Linked DNA regions of Homo sapiens: region 1 is linked to region 2. Evidence: fine-mapped expression QTL. A gene starts in region 2. The other region holds a variant in brackets. All regions are shown on one strand. Distances are from middle to middle.

Evidence for each region. PIP is the estimated chance that this variant, and not a neighbour inherited with it, causes the effect.
Region 1: its variant is fine-mapped to the expression of CDK5RAP3 in whole blood (INTERVAL, PIP above 0.99).

Annotation. Positions count from the first base shown.
Region 1 is chr17:48,038,894-48,047,133 of GRCh38, reverse strand. NFE2L1-DT (NFE2L1 divergent transcript) reads left to right here. Exons shown (of 2, transcript NR_170231.1): 2 at 164-253. It also overlaps a transcript of COPZ2 not described here. Among named protein-coding and RNA genes, the nearest start is that of NFE2L1-DT, 5.0 kb to the left of the region's middle. RefSeq lists enhancers at 1-3, 8,171-8,220. The variant A/G (reference allele first, on the strand shown) is at 4,171.
Region 2 is chr17:47,963,874-47,975,551 of GRCh38, reverse strand. CDK5RAP3 (CDK5 regulatory subunit associated protein 3) reads right to left here and starts at 4,439. Exons shown (of 14, transcript NM_176096.3): 1 at 4,400-4,439; 2 at 4,145-4,190; 3 at 1,902-2,033; 4 at 1,521-1,621; 5 at 1,104-1,152; 6 at 215-393; 7 at 1-38. The coding sequence starts at 4,405. RefSeq lists enhancers at 1-153, 3,450-4,077 and a silencer at 4,499-4,788.

The sequences.
Region 1 (8,240 bases), 73 kb before region 2:
TTGCGAGTTAGGGGCTTAATTTGGGGTGGTTTGCAGATTAAGTACTTTCACTGCATATAATAAACGTACACCAGCAAACCACTCATGGAATTCTTAAAAAAACTTCTGAGCTAGTTTACCAGTTTCAAAGACTAATTCAGAGAGCATGTTTTACCTATTCTAGGCTGGACTGGAACTCCTGGACTCAAGCGATCTTTCCATTTATCAGGGACTACTGACGCGTGTCTCCCAATAAATACCTGAGTATAAACAACATGAGGACTAGAATTTTGTGCGTTAACTGTTATAACTTAGTAGACACTCAAATACTGAGTACTTGAAGGGGGACTCAAGCAGGCAGGCCTCTGATTTTCCTGTTAAAAGCAGAAATTAACCACACCTTGGAGGATGTACAGTTTTGAAGGATATGGCATGTTAACAATAAAATAGGAGACCATTCAGTCCCCGAAGTAGTGAGACAATGAAGATAAAGACTGGTATTGTATAAGAAAGGAGGAATATTTAGGTGTGGCCATCAACTCTAAAAATAAATAAGGTTGAGAAGGAAGTATTTTAAACATAGAACTGGGCCCGGCGCAGTGGCTCACAGTAGCACCTTGGGAGGCCGAGGCGGGAGGATTGCTTGACCAGCCTGGGCAGCATAGTGAGACCCCCGTCGCTACAAAAAAACAAGCTGGGCTTGGTGCCACACATCTATAGTCCCAACTACTCAGGAGGCTGAGGTGGGAGGATTTCTTGAGCTGGGAGATTGAGGCTGCAGTGAGCTATGATGGTGCCAGTCTGGGCAACAGTGAGATGCTTCCTCAACAAAACAAAACATAAAATTGAGAGATATAAAGGCTCAACTACAGTGTTTAACTACAAGACAATTTTGAGAAGGTGAAAAGAGCATACTAAAGTTGGTCTTTTTTTGACAGAAAAATACAGAACAATTTTCAGTCCTAACAGTTCAAACTAAAACTGGACAATCGTTTATCTGTGGAGTTTCCTGCTTAGCCATTTCACAAAGGTGGGCAGAAAAAGGGAAAGAGTTGCAAGGGCCGAAGAGAGTAAAGGTGTAGAGACAAACTCAGTCGCAACAGCAGGCCTAGGCCTGGCAGGGTGTGGGCGCCCAGGATATTTGATGCTCCATGGAAGGGAGTGGAGACAGAAAGACTGTCTTCCATTCTGTCTAGAGTTCCAGATCAAGTCTGAGCAGGTGCAAGCTTTCCCAGAACCTGCTGATTAACCTTGTAAAACCCAGGGTGTGTCCTTCTTCACCCAGGAAGCCACCCCCTCCTTTCCCCCAACACTCTCCCCCTCCCTTTGCCTGGGACAGCTGTTAATAGGACAGTTACCCAAGAAGCAAAAGAAGGATCCCATGCTGATGTGTCATCAGTCCCGGTATATCCATTAAATCAGACTGAGAAGACCACTGGAAAAAGTGAGCGCATGCATGTGGCTCCCTAAGGGAAAGGCTGGCAGCCATTGTAAAACTAGGCCTTGCCCCTGCGACTCCAGGCTGGGCAGGAGAGAGAAGAAGGCAGTGGAAGCCGAGAAGAGGGTTAGGTCTAAAGCACACGGATTTGGGGCCAGCTAACTATAAAACATACACGGAAATCCCCACCCCCACCCCAGGAATAGCAGTGTAGTGTCTACCGACCCAGCTTCCCTGGTAGGAAAAGCTGCTGCTGCCGCCAACAGCCACATCCATCCTGCAGTCATCCCTGGAGGATGACACATGCCAGGAATCCTCAGAGAAGGGGCTGTGGGAGGGCAGGCTGGCTGGGGCTCTGATTTCTTCTGGAACAGTGAAATTGCTTTTTCCCTAAAAGGGAAACCCAGGCTTTCTGCCATTCTGGTTGTCCATTATCTTTCCTCTAAAAATGTCTCTAAGGCCAGGCACAGTGGCTCACACCTGTAACCCCAGCACTTCGAGAGGCCCAGGTGGGCAGATCACTTGAGCCAGGAGTTTGAGACCAGCCTGGCCAACATAGTGAAAACCCATCTCTACAAAAAAAATACAAAAATTAGCCAGGCGTGGTGGTTCATGCCTGTAGTCCTAGCTAGTGGGGAGGCTGAGGTGGAAAGATCACCCGATCCTGGGGAGGTTGAGGGTGCAGTAAGCTGTGATTGCGCCATTGCACTCCAGTCTGGGCAACAGAGTAAGACCCTGTCTCAAAAAAAATAATAAAAAGAAAAACATGTCTTTAAGTTTTGCTAATCCATATAAGTATTTCTTACTCTGTAACCTCATCTAATCCAGGGGAATAGATTAGATAGATGATTGCCTGAGATTTCCTTACAGTCCTGAGAGATGGTAGGAATACATCATGTCAATACTAAATGTTAGCATGTTTTGCAAAGAAATCAATTAGTTTTCTGGCAAATCCGGACATATGGCCCTCTCTCTTATATGGTAAACATCATCAGCAAGCTTGTTACCATTAAACCACCAAAAAGTAAAGCTCTCCTGCAAGCCAGCCTCTTTCCTATGCACCACTACCACACTCTTAGAAGATTGCTTCTCAATCCTGGCTGCATATTAGAATCACCCAGGTGGGTAGCTCGTAAGAAATACCAATGCCCAGGTCCCACCCCACACCAATTAAAACAGCTGCCCAGAGCAGAATTGGACATCAGTATTTTGTAAAAGCTCTTCAGGTGATTCTTATGCACAGCCAGAGTAGAGAATCACTAGGTTGGAGCAAGAATCCACATTGGGGTAAAAAAAAAAAAAAAAAAAAAAAAGCAAAAGATTGTGGTAATACGGGAACACAGACTAGAATGATTATCTGACTTTTTTTTTTGAGATGGAGTCGCTCTGTGGTCCAGGCTGGAGTGCAGTGACACCATCTCAGCTCACTGCAACCTCTGCCTCCCCAGTTCAAGCGATTCTCCTGCTTCAGCCTCCTGAGTGGCTGGTATTAAAGGTGCACACCACCACGCTTGGCTAATTTTTGTATTTTTAGTAGAGACAGGGTTTTGCCATGTTGGCCAGGCTGGTCTCAAACTCCTGACCTCAAGTGATCTGCCCACCTCAGCCTCCCAAAGTGCTGGGATTACAGGCGTGAGCCACTGCACCCGGCCCGTTTGACTTTTAGGGTGTGCTCATTCTCAACCCTAAAATGTTCTTTCTTCACCTCTACAATGAAAATGCCTCATTGTTCATTAGTGTCTTAGTGTAACATTTTTTGAAGCTGAGTTCAACTGTCCTGTATGTCTTGCTATGTTGTCTCAAACAATACCAGGTAGTGTTCTTCATATAGCTCTGTGTGACATGTCACACTCAAGGAGCTGCCATTAAGAGGTAGGAGGAGTGGATGTTTTGGACTCATAGGTGGGTTCGAAAATCTGGCTCTGTTTCTTACTAGTTGGGCCATCCCGAGCTAAATGGAGATAACAATGTACATATTCATAAATCTTAAAAATCAGGTCATGTGTATAAAGCCATTCATGCCTGGAGGAAGAGCTGAGTATAAGGCCCTGTCTTGAATAATCCTCTCTCCACCCACCCTACAACTTTATCTCAGAGAAAGCCAAAGGCGATGAAGAAATGAGAGCTGTCCTTAGAATGGTCTACTAGAAACCCATCCTACAGACAGAGCATGGAAGCTTTAGTTTTCTCTAGAGGATGCCACCAGTACACACTTCCACGCCTCATATTCCACACACACCTCCCCCTCTTGACATTAAGCAGGAGGGATAGAGAGAGGCTGGTACCCAAGGGAGCTGTTTCTTCTCGTCACATAAGAACAGATGCTGAAATCCTAGGACAGACAGCACAGAAATGTGGCAGCAGGAGGGTGACTCAGAGGAAATGAAATGGTCTCCCCTTCAAGCTATACCAAGGCCCAGAGGAGAACCTGCTTTGAATCACCTGCCTCCTGGGACTCCAAAGGGCAGGGACCAATTCTGAGTGCACTACTTCACAGGTTCCAGCTGGGTAGGGATGTGCACAGCCCACCTCTCCATCCTACTGTGCCTACCCGAAGGGAGTAGAGGGCAGAGAAACATGAAGGCTGCATTCTTTTTGAACCCAACTTGGCTTCCTCGAGCTGGGGAGGCTCTCCTGCCGAGTCTGCTGCTGCACGTGCATGCTTCTCATGTGCTGCCAGCCTTAAACTGGAAAGTCCTCTTAGGGCCATGCTCTGTGGAAGACACTGTCCCAATACTGGACACACATAGCTC[A/G]CATGTTTATGTGAAACTGCATTAAAGGTGCACTTCAGGATGTGTGGGGAAGCGGTTGTCATGGAGAGAAAGAAGTTCTGGGGTCTCTGTTGAAGGAGTTTGGGGAGGGGTTATCATTGGGGAGAATCTTGTCCTTGAAAAGTTGAACTTGGCTCTGAATTTACTTATTCACCACTAAACTAAGATGTAAAGAGATTTTATGGGCCAGGCACGGTGGCTTACGCCTATAATCCCAGCACTTTGGGAGGCCAAGGTGGGCAGATCACTTAAGGTCAGGAGTTGGAGAACAACCTGGCTAACATGGTGAAACCCCGTCTCTACTAAAAATACAAAAATTAGCCGGGCATGGTGGCACGCACCTGTAATCCCTGCTACTTGGGAGGCTGAGGCAGGAGAATTGCTTGAACCCGGGAGGCAGAGGTTGCAGTGAGCCGAGATCGTGCTACTGCACTCCAGCCTGGGCGACAGAGTGAGACTCCATTTCAAAAAAAAGAAAAGATGTAAAGAGATTTTAAGAAGAGGAACAACAAGGCCAGGCGCGGTGGTTCACGCCTGTAATCCCAGCACTTTGGGAGGCCAAGGCAGGCGGATCACCTGAGGTCAGGAGTTCAAGACCAGCCAAACAACATAGTGAAACCCTGTCTCTACTAAAAATAAAAAAAATTAGCTGGGTGTGGTGGCGCATACCTGTAATCCCAGCTACTCAGGAGACTGAGACAGGAGAATCGCCTGAACCTGGGAGGCGGAGATTGCAGTGAGCCAATATCACCCCATTGCACTCCAGCCTGGGCAACAAGAGTGAAACTCCTTCTCAAAAAAAAGAAAAAAAGAAAAAGAAAAAGCAACAACAGTGATAGATGTGGGGGTGATGAGAACTTTGTGGTTCCTAAGCTTCCTTCCCCAGCCTTCTCTCATTCCTATCCCCTTGGCCCCTCTCCAGTGCCTTCCCATCCCTAACGTGTATAACTGACTCCTTCCCCACCTCCCCTATGGAGCCAGCCCCCTAAGTCCCCTATCTTCCCAGGTCTTCCTCTGTCCCTTCTGGAGGCTGCTGGTCTTTCATAGTGGGTACCATAGCCAAACAGAGGCTGAGAAATGCTCCTGGAGGCTTTTTGGTGCTGTCCTTGTAAATATGAGCCAAAAAAAAAAAAAAAATGGACTAGCTCACAGAAATATTAAGACATCAAAATAACCAAATCAGTATTTTTTAGAAATAACATACCCAGCCAGCATGACCATTGACATAACTTCTGATGATCTGGAATCCGAAGAAATAAAATGCCCAAATGCTGGGTCTTTTCCCTGGCTGCTGTTATCAAATAGTGTCATTATGTTCCCTATTATAACTGATAGCCTGCAAGAAAGGTTCAGATGTGCCTTCTAAGTCATCATATAGGGAGGGTCAGTAGATGCTTCCTCAGATGTCTGCATGGCCTGCTTCCTCCTTTCCTTTAGCTCTTTGTTCAAATGTCACCTTGTTAAAGGTTTTCTCAGAGGACTATGAAAATGGCTTTCTGGCTTGCCTGTCCCTTACCCCTCACATTCCACATCCCATTTCTGCTCTATTTTTCTTTGCAGCACTTATCCCCAACTCATATAATATCTACTTTTCCCATTTATTTGTGTATTATATCTTGCACAGAAACGCACGCATGTACATACACAAACACTTGATTGTAAGTTCCATGAGAGCAAAATTTTTCTTTTGTCTACTATTGTGTCCCAGTGGCTAGAAAAATATCTGGTACATACTAAGCACTCAATAAATATTTGTACAGCACATAAAATATGTTGTCTTTTTTTTTTTTTTTTTTTTGGAGATAGAGTCTTGCTCTGTTGCTGAGGCTGCAGTGGTGTGATCTTGGCTCACTACAGCCTCTGCCTCCTGGGTGCAAATGATTCTCCTGCCTTCACCTCCCAAGTAGCTGGGACTACAGGCACTCGCCACCATGCCTGGCTGATTTTTGTGTGTTTTTAGTAGAATCAGGGTTTCACCATGTTGGCCAGGCTGGTCTCGAACTCCTGGTCTCAAGTGATCTGCCCGCCTTGGCCTCTCAAAGTGCTGGGATTACAGGTATGAGCCACCACACCCAGCCAATATGGTATCATTGATAGGTACATTTTAATTATTATTAGTTAAAATTTGGTATTTGTGAATATTTATACATGATCTCCCTCATCCTGAATTCCTTTATTCATTTACTTCACAAATGCTTATTAAATATCTGTCATCGGCCAGGTGCAGTGGCTCATGCCTGTAATCCCAGCACTTTGGGAGGCCGAGGCAAGCAGATCACAAGGTCAAGAGATCGAGACCATCCTGGCCAACATGGTGAAACCCTGTCTCTACTAAAAATACAAAAATTAGCTGGGCGTGGTGGTGTGCACCTGTAGTCCCAACTACTCGGGAGGCTGAGGCAGGAGAATCACTGGAACCCGTGAGGCGGAGGTTGCAGTGAGCCGAGATCTCGCCACTGCACTCCAGCCTGGTGACGGAGCAAGACTCCGTCTCAAAAAAAAAAAAAAAAAATCTGTCACCAAGCCTTGTAAGAAACACTAGGGATTCCACAGTGAACAAGACAAACATAATTGGCCAGGTGAGGTGGGTCACACCTGTAATCTCAGGGCTTTGGGAGGCCGAGGCAGGAGGAGGGCTTGATCCCAGGAGTTCAAGACCTGCCTGGACAACACAGCAAGACCCTGCCTTTAAAAAAAATAATAATAAATAACCAGGCATGGTGGCACGTGTGTATCGTCCCACCTACTCAGGAGACTGAGACAGGAGAATGGCTTGATCCTGGGAGTTGTTTGTGTGTGTGTGTGTGTGTGGGTGGGTGGGTGGGTAGCAGGTTCTCGCTCTCTTGGCCAGGCTGGAGTGCTGTAGTGCGGTCTCGGGTCACTGCAACCTCCACCTCCCAGGTTCAAGTGATTCTCCTGCCTCAGCCTCCCGAGTAGCTGGGATTACAGGCACCTGCCACCACCCCCGGCTAATTTTTTTGTATTTTTAGTAGAGATGGGGTTTCACCATGTTGGCCAGGCTGGTCTCAAACTCCTGACCTCGTGATCCGCCTGTCTCGGCCTTCCAAAGAGCTGGAATTACAGGCGTGAGCCACCGTGCCCGGCCGACACTGGGAATTTGAGGCTGCGGTGAACTATGATCACACCACTGTACTCCAGCCTGGGTGATAGAGCAAGACCCTGTCTCAAAACAAAAAAACAAACAAACAAAAAGTCACATTCATTGGTTCTTGCAGGGCTCAAAGTCTGGGCGGGGAGAAGGAACACTTATAAACAAACTAGTAAAGGCTGGGAATGGTGGTTCACGCCTGTATCCCAACACTTTGGGAGGCTGAGGTGGGAGGATCACTTGAGCCTAGGCGTTCAAGACCAGCCTGGGCAACATAGTGAGACCTTGATCATGATCACCCTCCTCCCCCTCCTCCTCCTCTTCCTTTCTTTTTCTCTTCTTCTTCTTCTTCTTTTTTTTTTTTTTGAAACAGATTCTCACTCCCATTGCCCAGGCTGGAGCACAGTGGCATGATCATGGCTCTGCAGCCTTGAACCCCCAGACTCGGGTGATTCTCCCACCTCAGCCTTCTGAGTAGCTGGGACTACAGGTCACACCACCCTACCTGGCTAATTTCTTTGTAGTTTTAGTAGAGACTAGATCTTACCATGTTGCCCAGGCTGGTCTGGAACTCCTGGGCTCAAGCCTTCTGCCCACCTCAGCCTCCCAAAGTGCTGGGATTACAGATGTGAGCCATTGAGCCCAGACTTGAGACCTTGTTTCTACAAAAATAAAAAAAATAAAAAAATAAAAAATTACCTGGGAGTGGTTGCATGCACCAGTGGTCCCAGCTACTCGGGAGACTGAGATGGGAGGATTGCCTGAGCCCAGGAGGTTGAGGCTGCAGTGAGCCCAGATCGAGTCACTGCACTCCAGCCTGGGCAACAGAGTGAGACCGTGTCTCAAACAAGCAATATTAGTAAAAATAATATTTAGAGATTGAAAAAAGTGCAATGAAAGAAAGAAATAGGAACTGAGAGAATGTGACAGGAGAGACCTATCA
Region 2 (11,678 bases):
TTCACCAGGGCCAGCAGTTCTCCTCGGACATTTTCGCCCTAGAGAGGGGAGAAGAGGTGGAGTCCAACAGATTGAAGAAAACATCCAAAGACCGAAGAAAAGTAAGACACTGGCCCAAAGGGGGTGCAACCAGGCTGAGGGGTCAGACGGGGTCAGAGGAAGACAAGCAGGGGCCCAGGTGTCCTCTGGCTGCGAAGAGGCTGCCGCCGCTCACCGTGATGCCATACTGCTTGCAGGAGTGGTAGAACTGCTCCCGCATCTCGGCAGCCCCTGCCTGGCACTCCTCCTCCTTGCGGCTGTATTCTTGCTGCAGCTGCTGGCACTTGGCAATCTGCTTCTTCAGTGAGGGGATCTCATAGTTGACATTCCGAACCAGGAGGCTAGAGAGTTCCACTGAGAAGTGCCCAGGAAATTCAGCCCAGGACACCCCCACATGAGGCAGGCATGCCCCAGGATGCACACACATCCTTTGTGGTGGTGAAGAGCACGAAGTCAGCTTCCCAGCCCCACTTGTTCCCAGCTGTGGAGCCTAAGACAAGTTGTTTAACCCCTCTAATCCAACCCTCATCGGTAAAACAGCGACAATAACATTTATCATGAAGATGCAAGAGAGAATCCACATGACACACCAAGCACAATTCCTTGCATTTAGTAGATGCTCAGGAAATATTAGCCATTATTATTATTTATACTACACCCAACCCAAACACAGTTAGTCCTGTAGTTGCTCTCAGGCACTTGATATTCGCTCCCAGAAAAACCCGTGCCTCTTCTGCCTTGTGTAGAATGGGGGTGCGGGGGTGGGGGTGGGGGCAGCACACTCCCGCTAACCAAGAGGTGAGTGGTGGAGGACCCACACACACCTGCTCGCTGAGGCACGGCGAATGGCCACTACCGGCCTGGACCTCCTCCTTCCCCCAGCACTCCACTCAGGGAAAATCAATTCCATCAAAAACAATTGATTTTACCACCTACAAATGGGCAACATCTACACTCCAGTCTCTTCCCACTCACAGACTGTGCCTCCTATAAGCCTGGTATCTCAGAACTCTGAGAGTGGGCTTCCCCATGGATACCAGGGCTCCCAGGCCGGGCCACTTTACCTAAGTAGGTGTTGTCCTTCTCATACAGAGCTATAATCTCCTGCCAATCCTGAGTAAGAACAGAAAAACAATGTTAAGCCAGAAAAGCACTCGACAGCCACATCCCAGCTCAATCCCTAAACAGGGTAAGTTCTCCCAGCCTTTACATCACATCAAACACAAACTCCTTGTCCTTCTTTCAACTCTGCTGGCTGGACCACCCACTTTAAGAGTGCAGGCAATCCCTAAAGCAGTGGGTTTGAAAATTAAACTCAGGGATAGGATCCACTTTTGGAGTAAACTATAGAGACAGAGTGAAAGTTCAGGAAATATTCTATGTAGGCATCCCCACTGGAGCCTCAGAGAGACCACAGAGGCTATGACTCCTCGGATTGGATGTCCCCAACCACATACTACCGGCCCTTGGCCCACACTTGCCTTCATCCGCTGTGAAGAGTATCGGCCAAAAATATTCTTCGTGGAGGCCTCTGTGCCTTTGAGAAGGTCCAGGATTCTTAGGCAGTGAAAGTAGTGAATGTCTAGAAAGCAAGAGACGGGATTTCGAGAACTAAAGTATCTTCTTCACCTACTCTGGGCACTGCAGGTGGCTGATTCATGTATAATATACTGCCAGTAACTTTAGTGTGTAGCTTTTCCCTAAATCATTTCATAGTGGAAGAAGCCAGCATCTATACCTCAAATAAAAATCGCTCCCTCTCTAAAGGCCAGCCCTGGTGGCTAAATAACAAGAGAGTAGCTCAGCTGATACATACTACCTCAGCAAAGAGGGGACTCCAGTGACAGCCCCTAAGCACTCACAGGACCCAGACAGCAGCTGGGCGATCTCTTCGCTCTCTGGCATGTCCTGGATGGCAGCATTGATCTTCTCGCGGATCGTCAGCACCAGACTCTGCCATTTCAGGCTGCAGTGCCTTCTGTCCACCAGCCAATCTACATGAGAAGCACCCAAATTAGAGCATTCCCATTCACATCACCAAAATTCCATCACTAATTCGAGTGAAATACACTGAAATTAGTCTAAAAGTTTTCTTTACATTGGTTAAAGTATGGGGGTCATGGGAAGATGGGAATAAAGACAAGCCCAAAGAGATGCCTGGGGCTAAACCAGGCTCTGACAATCTGACTTCATTAGCAGTGTGATTTTTATAGAGCAATTGCCTCAACACAGGGATAACAAAAAGTTTAAATTGGTCCTGAAAGTGCCACTTTTGACCATTCTCAATTCCCCATAATATTTTTGCTTCTATGGGTAATTATATCTTTCTTCCTGACAAGAGGATGCTGCTCAACTTCCATTTCCTCAGGGCTGGGGTTAACCATGACAATGGAAAATACAAGATGGTTATGCCAAGTACTGGATGAATGAACAGCTGCAAAGCCCCTAATACCTACAGCGCCCTAAGGACTAGATAACATGACTCTGTTGTGAACAGTGAAGTACCACCCTGTACATGTGAATACCAATGGGACTGACCTCTCAAAGTCTGGGCCCAGATTTGTGGCTTCAGAGCCATGCATATTTCCTCAGTGAGAGCTAAGAGCTGAGCTTTGTGGTCAGATGGTCCTGGGTTCTCGTTATCAAGTTTCTTGAGCAAGTCTACTATTCTGTGCCTCAGTTTTCCCACATGTAAAATGGGGAATAATAAGACACTGACTAGAAAAGGGAATGCAGGTAAAACACTGAACAGTGTGCCTGAGACACGGCAAGGACTCAAAAAATGACAGTGATCATTTTTATCATGTCAAGTGCCTAAAACAGCACCTGGTACAAAAAAAAACCCTCAATGAATGGTGGTCATTTTATTGGTCCTTTTCATGACCAAGAACAAGCTCACACACCAAGACTGCACATGGGCTGAAGGGCCAGTACAAATCTGAAGGGAGGCTAAAGAAGCTTCCCCCGTGACCACCAAGCAGGACTGACTAAATGGCACTACAGAGTGGTGAATTCAGAACTTGAACTCTGCCAACCGGTCAAACGCTGGGGTCCCACACTAGTATCAGTTATACTCTCTCTGCTATATTCCTGTAAAGTTTTCAGAAAGAAAAATTCTGTTGATGTCACAGAACTAGAAGCAACGGACTGGGGTAGTCAAACAGACACCATCTTAAGGACAAGATTGGCATCAAATCCATGAATCCAATAAGCATTTTAAAATGCCAGGAGCTGTGTGATCAGATGAAGAGGCCTTCCCTGACTATGAACTGGGGAGGAAGTATGTAAGCCCCATACAGACAACCTGGAGATGGCCTGGACACTAAAAGGTTTTCATTTGCAACTGGGTCTTAGGTCCCTCTTCCTCCTAAAATCAAGGGGGAGGTGGAAGCTTTTTAAATGAGGTTTTTTTTTTTTTTCCTGGCATAATGCAAAAGGCATGGACAGTGGGTCAGACAGACTTAAGTTCCAATTCAGATGTGCCACTTAGTGGTTGACTGTTTTTTGTCTTCTTTTTGAGATGGAGTTTCGCTCTCGTTGCCCAGGCTGGAGTGCAATAGTGAGATCTCTGCTCACCGCAACCTCTGCCTCCGGGGTTCAAGCAATTCTCCCACCTCAGCCTCCCGAGTAGCTGGGATTACAGGCATGTGCTCCCATGCCCGGCTACTTTTTATTTTTATTTTTTTGTATTTTTAGTCATGGAGACATGGAGACAAGGTTTCTCCATGTTGGTCAGGCTGGTCTCGAACTCCTGACCTCAGGTGATTCGCCCACCTCGGCCTCCCAAAGTGCTGGGATTACAGGCATGAGCCACCGCGCCCGGCAGTGGTTGACTGTTTTTAAAGCGAGTCATTTATCCTGTCCCTGAATGATACGATAACATATGTTATTAAAGGAGAAAACGCAGGTCAAACAGACTGTACATATGGTTCGTTCCCGCTGCTATCAGGGAAGCAGGTCTGGCCACAGATGGGGCATAGAACGAGGCCAGTGGTCAGCATCTCGACTCAGGCTTTCAGGGGTCAGAGCTCCCGGCTATTGGACACAGGGGGCAACGCACAGGCCTCCCCCCGACAGCCAGCTGCGCGGTGGCGCCCCCTCCTACCGAGCAGCTTGCTGGTCTGGATGTCGATGGGCACGTGCTGATGGTCCTGGCGGGAAACACGGTGAGGAGGGGGGCGTGAGCGCGGAGAGAGGACGTACCACTCGCGCGCTCATTTCAACGTCCCAACCACCACCCTGCAGGGCCAGAACGGGGCCAGAGCGATGGGCTGGGTTGAGCCGCTTCCGGAGGGAGACCGGAGACACAGGTTAGGGGTCCGCGGCCAGTCCCCAGCACACCCAGCTCCTGTCCCCACACCTCCATCTTTCCTCCACTTCCGCTTCAGGCTGGAGACTGTGGCCCGCCCCGCCCTACCACCAATCCAGTGGCGTTGTGGCCGAGCCTCCGTTTAGACACAAACGGGCATCCTTCGGCCACGTCGCCGCCTTCCGTACAGCCAATCAGGGTTTACGCTCCACTCAGGCCTCAAGCCCCGCCCACCCCAGGCTCCGAATGGCTGAGCTCGGGAGGGGCGGGAGAATGGAGACAGCCAATTGGAGACGCGAGGCGGGCTCAGGGCAGGGGACGGGAGGGGGTGCGCTGCAGCGGCCGTGGGATTGCGACAGGCGGCGCTCGAGAGCCCAGCCTGGCAGCCGCTTCCCCTGGCGGGCACTGGGTCTTCTCCACGCAGATTGAGACGTCTGCTGGCGGGGTCCTAGCGCCGATCTGGGAGGCCGTTGCAAATACCTTCTTCCCTCCTTGCGTCGCTTTACCATCCAGAGCAGTGTGCAGGTCTCTTGTGGCACTTGTCATGCTTTGCCTCCTCATTCAGTTTCTCTAATAGACATGGTTGAGCACCTGCAACGTGTTGGGCGATTAGGGCAGGGAAGGGGAAGGAAGAGAGTCGGTGAGACGTCCCAAAGAGAACACCTACATTGAGTCTAAACGAAGAGCTGAAGATAGCTGGGTGATGTGGGAAGAGGAGTTTTAGGTGGAGGAGACTACACAGACAAAGCTTAGGTGGCCACAAACTGCAAGAGGGGTGCAAGCAACAACAGGCAGGCAGGACGGGCAACGTAATTTGTGAGGTCCAGTGCAAAATGGAAATGCACAGCTGCTTGTTACAAAATGATGAAGAATTTCAAGATGAAGTCGGCTCCGCGGGCAGGCCAACCTCTATACCGTAGATGGTTTGAGGCAGCGAGTGGCTAGAGGAGAGGCTGTAAGGGTGGAAAGGCCATATCAAAGGGAGACTTATTAAGGAACTTGGACTTCATCCCTTCAGACAGAGGAATCACAGAAGGGGTTTGAGGCAGGGAGGAACCTGTACAGATAGGCTGCTGGGATGATGGATGCATGGGAGATAAGACTGGGGACAAGGAGGCTGGAAGGAGGTTGTTATCGAGGGATTATAGCCTGAGCTGGGACACAAGATATGAGGAGGAAGGGGAAGGGCTGGATCTGAGGAATATTTAGGAGGAAAATGTATAGGACTTGGCAATTGATTGGCTGTTTGGGTGGAGGAGAGAGACACTAAGGATGACACCTAGGTGATTAGGTGGGAACCACCACCTGAGACAGGGATGCAGGATGCTGAGCAGGTGTTGGGGAGGAGGGGGTCTAGCTTTGAACCTAGTCTGGCAATGCTGGGAGACCCCCAGATGGAAAGTGTGCAGAAGGCACTTGGGTCTATAATTTTGGAGTTCGAGGGAGTTGTCGGGGCTGGAGATACAGCTTGGAGAGTCACAAGCTGGCTAATCTGTGGTCCGAGTGGTGGCTGAAGCTAAGGGAGAGTCTGAGATTGGCCAAGAAGTGGGTAGAGTAAGGAGGGAGGGTAGGCTGAGGCCAGATCCCCCAGGATCTCACAGCGCTGGGTATGCCTTTTCTTTTTTTTTTTTTTTTTTTTTTTTTTTTGAGACGGAGTCACGCTCTGTCGCCCGGGCTGGAGTGCAGTGACACGATCTCGGCTCACTGCAAGCTCTGCCTCCTGGGTTCACGCCATTCTCCTGCCTCAGCCTCCCCAGTAGCTGGGACTACAGGCGCCCGCCACCACGCCCGGCTAATTTTTTTGTATTTTTAGTAGAGACGAGGTCTCACCGTGTTAGCCAGGATGGTCTCGATTTCCTGACCTCGTGATTCTCCCGCTTCAGCCTCCTAAAGTGCTGGGATTACAGGCGTGAGCCACCGCGCCCGGCCCTGGGTATGCCATTTCTAAATATTCCTTCCCCAGCTCCTGTTCACCACAGCACAACACTTGAGGCTTAGTAAATTTTTGATTGAAATGCATAGTGTGATACAGCAGCAGGAAGACCTAGATTCTGCCCAGTGAGGTCTTGGACCATTTCTATAACCTATCTGATAGCCACAGTTTCCCCACATGGAGATAACAGCTATCCTATCTCAGGGTATTTCTGTTTAGAGGCTTAAATAAACACACTAGTAACTCATGACAGTTTACAACATACTGTGGCTGTATTTCTCATGCTTTGTAAACTCTCCCTATATGAAATATCATATATGGGCCAGGCGCGGTGGCTCACGCCTGTAATCCCAGCACTTTTGGGAGGCTGAGACAGGCGGATCACCTAAGGTCAGGAATTCGAGACCAGCCTGATCAACATGGTGAAATCCCATCTCTGAAAAAAACAAAAAACACGCTGGGCACGGTGGCTCACGCCTGTAATCTCGGCACTTTGGGATGCTGAGGCGGGTGGATCACGAGGTCAGGAGTTTGAGACCAGCCTGATCAACATGGTGAAACCCTGTCTCTACTAAAAATACAAAAATTAGCTGGGCGTGGTGGCGTACGCCTGTAATCCCAGCTACTCAGGAAGCTGAGGCAGGAGAACTGCTTGAACCCGGGAGGCGGAGGTTGCAGTGAGCCGATATTGCGCCACCGCACTCCAGCCTGGGCGACAGAGTGAGACTCCATCTCAAAAACAAAACAAAACAAAAAACAAACAAACAAACAAAAACAAAAACCATCCCGGCGTGGTGGTGCATGCCTGCAGTCCCAGCTACTCAGCTACTCGGGAGGCTGCGGCGGAAGAATCACCTGAACTTGGGAGGCGGAGGTTGCAATGAGCCCAGATTGCGCCACTGCACTCCAGCCTGGGCAACAGAGTGAGACTCCATCTCAAAATATATATATATGTCATATATGATCATTATTATTATAGAACGGATTGAAAAACTGCTCTGAAAATGGCTCATAGAGCTGAATTAAGGGCCTTTTCAGGGATCTTTCATGGGAATTTGGCTCCCATCTGAGTCAGCCTGACTCAGACTGTAGGAATTGCTCAGGCTCCTCCATGATTAAACACACACTTAACTGGGCCCCAACTATGTGCTCGGGGCTGTCTGGGACATCTCAAGAGCAAGGCACTGCCCTGCCCTCAAGGTGTATCTATCTCTCTTCCTTGAACCAACAGGCTGGGCAGAACAGGACAGGGTGGGTCTGGAAGACCCAGCCCAGGTGAGTTGATGGAAGCAGGGACCACCAGCACTTCAGCCCCACCCACAGCTCCCCAAGGTGACTCACGTGGAGCAGAAGGATGTTTGAGAACAGTTCTGCCCAGCTACTGACTCCAGGGAGGCTGTCCCAAAGCCAGAGGCTCTGGGAGAGAACCTGCCTCTGCTGACTGCAGAGGCTCTGGGGGAGAGCCTGCCAAAGGCACATGCTTCTGTGTTCCCAAAGAGTGTAGGAGCATGGGCCTTTGGCGGGTTTCTGCACTTTTCCAAGGCCACAGGGAACTTCAGGGTCTGTGGGTAGATAAGCACATAATTGGTCTGGCATCCAGGGCATCGACTCTATCTCCTTCAGGAGACTTTAGTCATCGGGGCTCCCAGCAGCTAGAAGGAGGCAGAGAGAGGTATGGTAGGTTTCTGACCAGGAATCTCTCAGTTCTCTGCTGATTTAGCAGATGGGACCCTGGGAGAGGGGCAGCACATGTAGAGAGGTGAGGAGGATATACCAGGGCTGCACCAGCTTTGGACAAGGAAGCACAGAGCCCCGAGGCACCGTGTAGGCAGCCTACCTTGCCATCCATTATTGTTGTTGTTAGCTTGCTTATTACGTGATAAACATGCCCACGTGCCAGTGTAGATCTAAATGTTTTACAAGCCTTATCTAATGTGATTCTTCTAACAACCTTATAATGTGGGTACCATCATTAACCAGATTTTAAAGGCAAGGAAGCCAAAGATTAATTACGTAACATGTTGAAAATCATCCAGTGGGCCAGGTGCGGTGGCTCACGTCTGTAATCCCAACACTTTAGAAGGCCAAGGTGGGTGGATCACAAGGTCAAGAGATCGAGACCATCCTGGCTAACACGGTGAAACCCCGTCTCTACTAAAAACACAAAAAATTAGCTGGGTGTGGTGGCACGTGCCTGTAGTCCCAGCTACTCAGGAGGCTGAGGCAGGACAATCACTTGAACCCAGGAGGCGGAGGTTGCAGTGAGCCGAGATCGCGCCACTGCACTCCAGCCTGGGTGACAGAGAAAGACTCCGTCTCAAAAAAAAAGAAAAGAAAAGAAAATCATACAGATCATACAGTGGGCCAGGCGCGGTGGCTCACACATGGAACTCAACACTTTGGGAGGCCGAGGCGGGTGGATCACCTGAGGTCAGAAGTTTGAGACCAGCCTGGCCAACAAGGTGAAACCCCAACTACTAAAAATACAAAATTAGCTGGGCGTGGTGGCACATGCCTGTAATCCCAGCTACTCGGGAGGCTGAGGCAGAAGAATCCCTTGAACCTGGGAGGCAGAGGTTGCAATGAGCCAAGATTGTGCTACTGCGCTCCAGCCTGGGAAACAGAGAAAGACTCAAAAAAAAAAAAAAAAGGAAAATCATACAGTGGGTAGTTGATGAGGCTGGGATTCAAACCCAGGCCTGTTGGGCTACCCAGCCTGCATTCTTCTTCTCTGTGTGATGTGCCTTTGCTTCTCCTGCACCCCTGCCTACCCCTTTGGCTCAGCCACAACAGCTTCAGGTCTCTTCCTCCCTTGGGCCTGATTCCTATTTTCTCCCCAGTTGTTGTGCCAGACACTCAGAACTCCCACCCCTGCAGGCCCTGCCCCTTTCCAAAGTTCATTCTTACCACACCCCATTCTGGGAAAGGGAGCCCATTACTTATCCTCCTGCAATATCCATAAAAGAAGGCTTACTTTCAACATTCAAATAACTCATTTATTTTATCTGCTATATTTTTATTACTTTATGGTCTGTGTGTTTGCTCACAGCCACACTGACTATGGGGTGTGGTGTGTGTGCCTGTGTGTGTGTGGTGTATCTGCCTGCTAGGCTGGAAGCTCTGGAAACATAGCAGCCTTGGGCCTCTTGCTGCCCGGAGTGTAACCACTGTGTTGCTTTTTTCTTTCTTTCTTTCTTTCCTTTTTTTTTTTTGAGACAGAATCTCGCTCTGTCACCCAGGCTGGAGTGCAGTGGTGTGATCTCAGCCCACTGCAACCTCCTCCTCTTGGGTTCAAGCGATTCTCCTACCTCAGCCTCCCAAATAACTGGGATTACAGGCACGTGCCACCATGCCTGGCTAATTTTTGTATTTTCAGTAGAGATGGGGTTTCACCATGTTGGCCAGGGTGGTCTTGAACTCCTGACCTCGTGATCTGCCCACCTTGGCCTCCCAAAGTGCTGGGATTACAGGCGTGAGCCACCGTGCCCGGCATGTTGCGTTTTTCAGTCTGTCTCCCCACCTAGTCTGCGAGTACCTGTGGGCTGGGAAGCCAAAGCAGACTTGTTCATCTCTATAACCCCAGCATCCGGTGTGACTCTTGACATTGAGTGTCAGGAGCTTAATGGATGCTTGTAATGAAGGAAAGCCATATGCAGGAAGGCATTTGATGTTGGTGGTAGTTGTGATAAGTGGGGACCATGATTGCTTTGTCTTGGGACAAGAGGTTCAAGGTCCCCAGATCCTTTTCTCATCCTTTCCTCTACAGCTCAGGACTTGGAGTCAACATCCTCTGAGCCTCTTGGGAGTGAAGGGAGGAAATCAGGGAGAAGAAATTAGGGGTGGTCAGCTTCACGAGTTTGGTACAGACCAGTGAAAGTCTATGTGGGGCCAGTCACCTGGGTCATGCTCTGGGGCCACTCATTTTACCCTTAACTCTGGCAACTCATGCCCTCCTGGCCACCTCATCCCTCCACCTTTGTTAGTCTTCTGGGGAAAAAGAACTCCCTGGGTGGCTTCATGAAATGGGTCCTGTTTGTCATCTTCTAAGGATGCCACTGTATTTCATTATTTCACCATGCTTATCATGGAAGGCGGTGGGAATCTAATCTGCTAAGAAAAGGAAAACCAAGGATACTACCAAACCACCCATCCATTCACCTCTTTTCCATTGGAGTTCAACTTTATGCACCCTGAGCACCTTATCACAAAGACACAGTCCTAGGCCTCAAAGGAAGTAAAAGTATGTTGAGTGAGGGGCCCACCACCTTCCATATCCCATGACGACATCTCCAGAGTGTGTCGTCACAGAGTGTGAGAGTACTGTGCTCATGCATAGAAGGTGCTCAAAAAATCTATGCAAAGCAAATAAGAGGTACCTGTAATCCCAGCGCTTTGGGAGGCCGAGGCAGGCAGATCACCTGAGGTCAAGAGTTCAAGACCAGCCTGGCCAACATGGCAAAATCCCGTCTCTACTAAAAATACAAAAACACAGAAAATTAACTGGGTGTGGTGGTGCCTGCCTGTAGTCCCAGCTACTTAGGAGGCTGAGGCACAAGAATCACTTGAACCCAGGAGGCAGAGGTTGCAGTGAGCTGAGGTCATGCCACTGCACTCCAGCCTGGGCAACAGAGCAAGACTGTCTCAAAAAAAATAAAAAAGCTAATAAGAGGTCCACTCAGAGATGCTCAGAGTGCTAAGGGAACAGAAAGAAGGAGACGGAGTATCCAACTCAGCATGGGAAAAGGCAAAGGAGAAGGACAGAACACCACCAGAGCAGGCTCTTAGGAGAAGTAACACTTGAGCTGAGTCTTGCAAGATGGCATGAATTGTAATAGAAAGGAGAGGAGAGAAAAGAGGAAGGGAGGTGACAGGTGTCATTCTGGGAAAAAGGAAAAGCAAGGACAAAGCCTAGAGGTGAGAGAATGGCTGTTCCAGAAGGAAGAAGTTTATTATGGGAGCATGGATGTTTATGGGGAGAGTGGAGAGAAATTAGGTTGAAGAGACCGGCAAAGGGAGATCTTGAAGAACTTTCAGGTCCATTATAAAGGGTTGAAATTTAATTCCATAGGTTAGGATTCCCAATCAATGGGCAAGCAGGTCCCTGGAAAGCTGTAGAAATATGCAAAGGTGGGAAGATCGCTTGAGCCAAGGAGTTTGAGGCTGTAGTGAGCTATGACTGTGCCAACTGTATTCCAGCCTGGGTGACGGAGACAGACCCTGTCTGTAAAAAAATAAATAAATAAATAAAATAGAATTATGCAAATGTGCCAGGGATCCATAAATGCAATGATTTTTTTTTAAGTCAGTGGTTACTAGAAAGACAACTCCCATATGATGAGATGCAGAAATTTTTCTACATTGAAGAAAATGGTCATTTTGGCTGGGCATGGTAGCTCA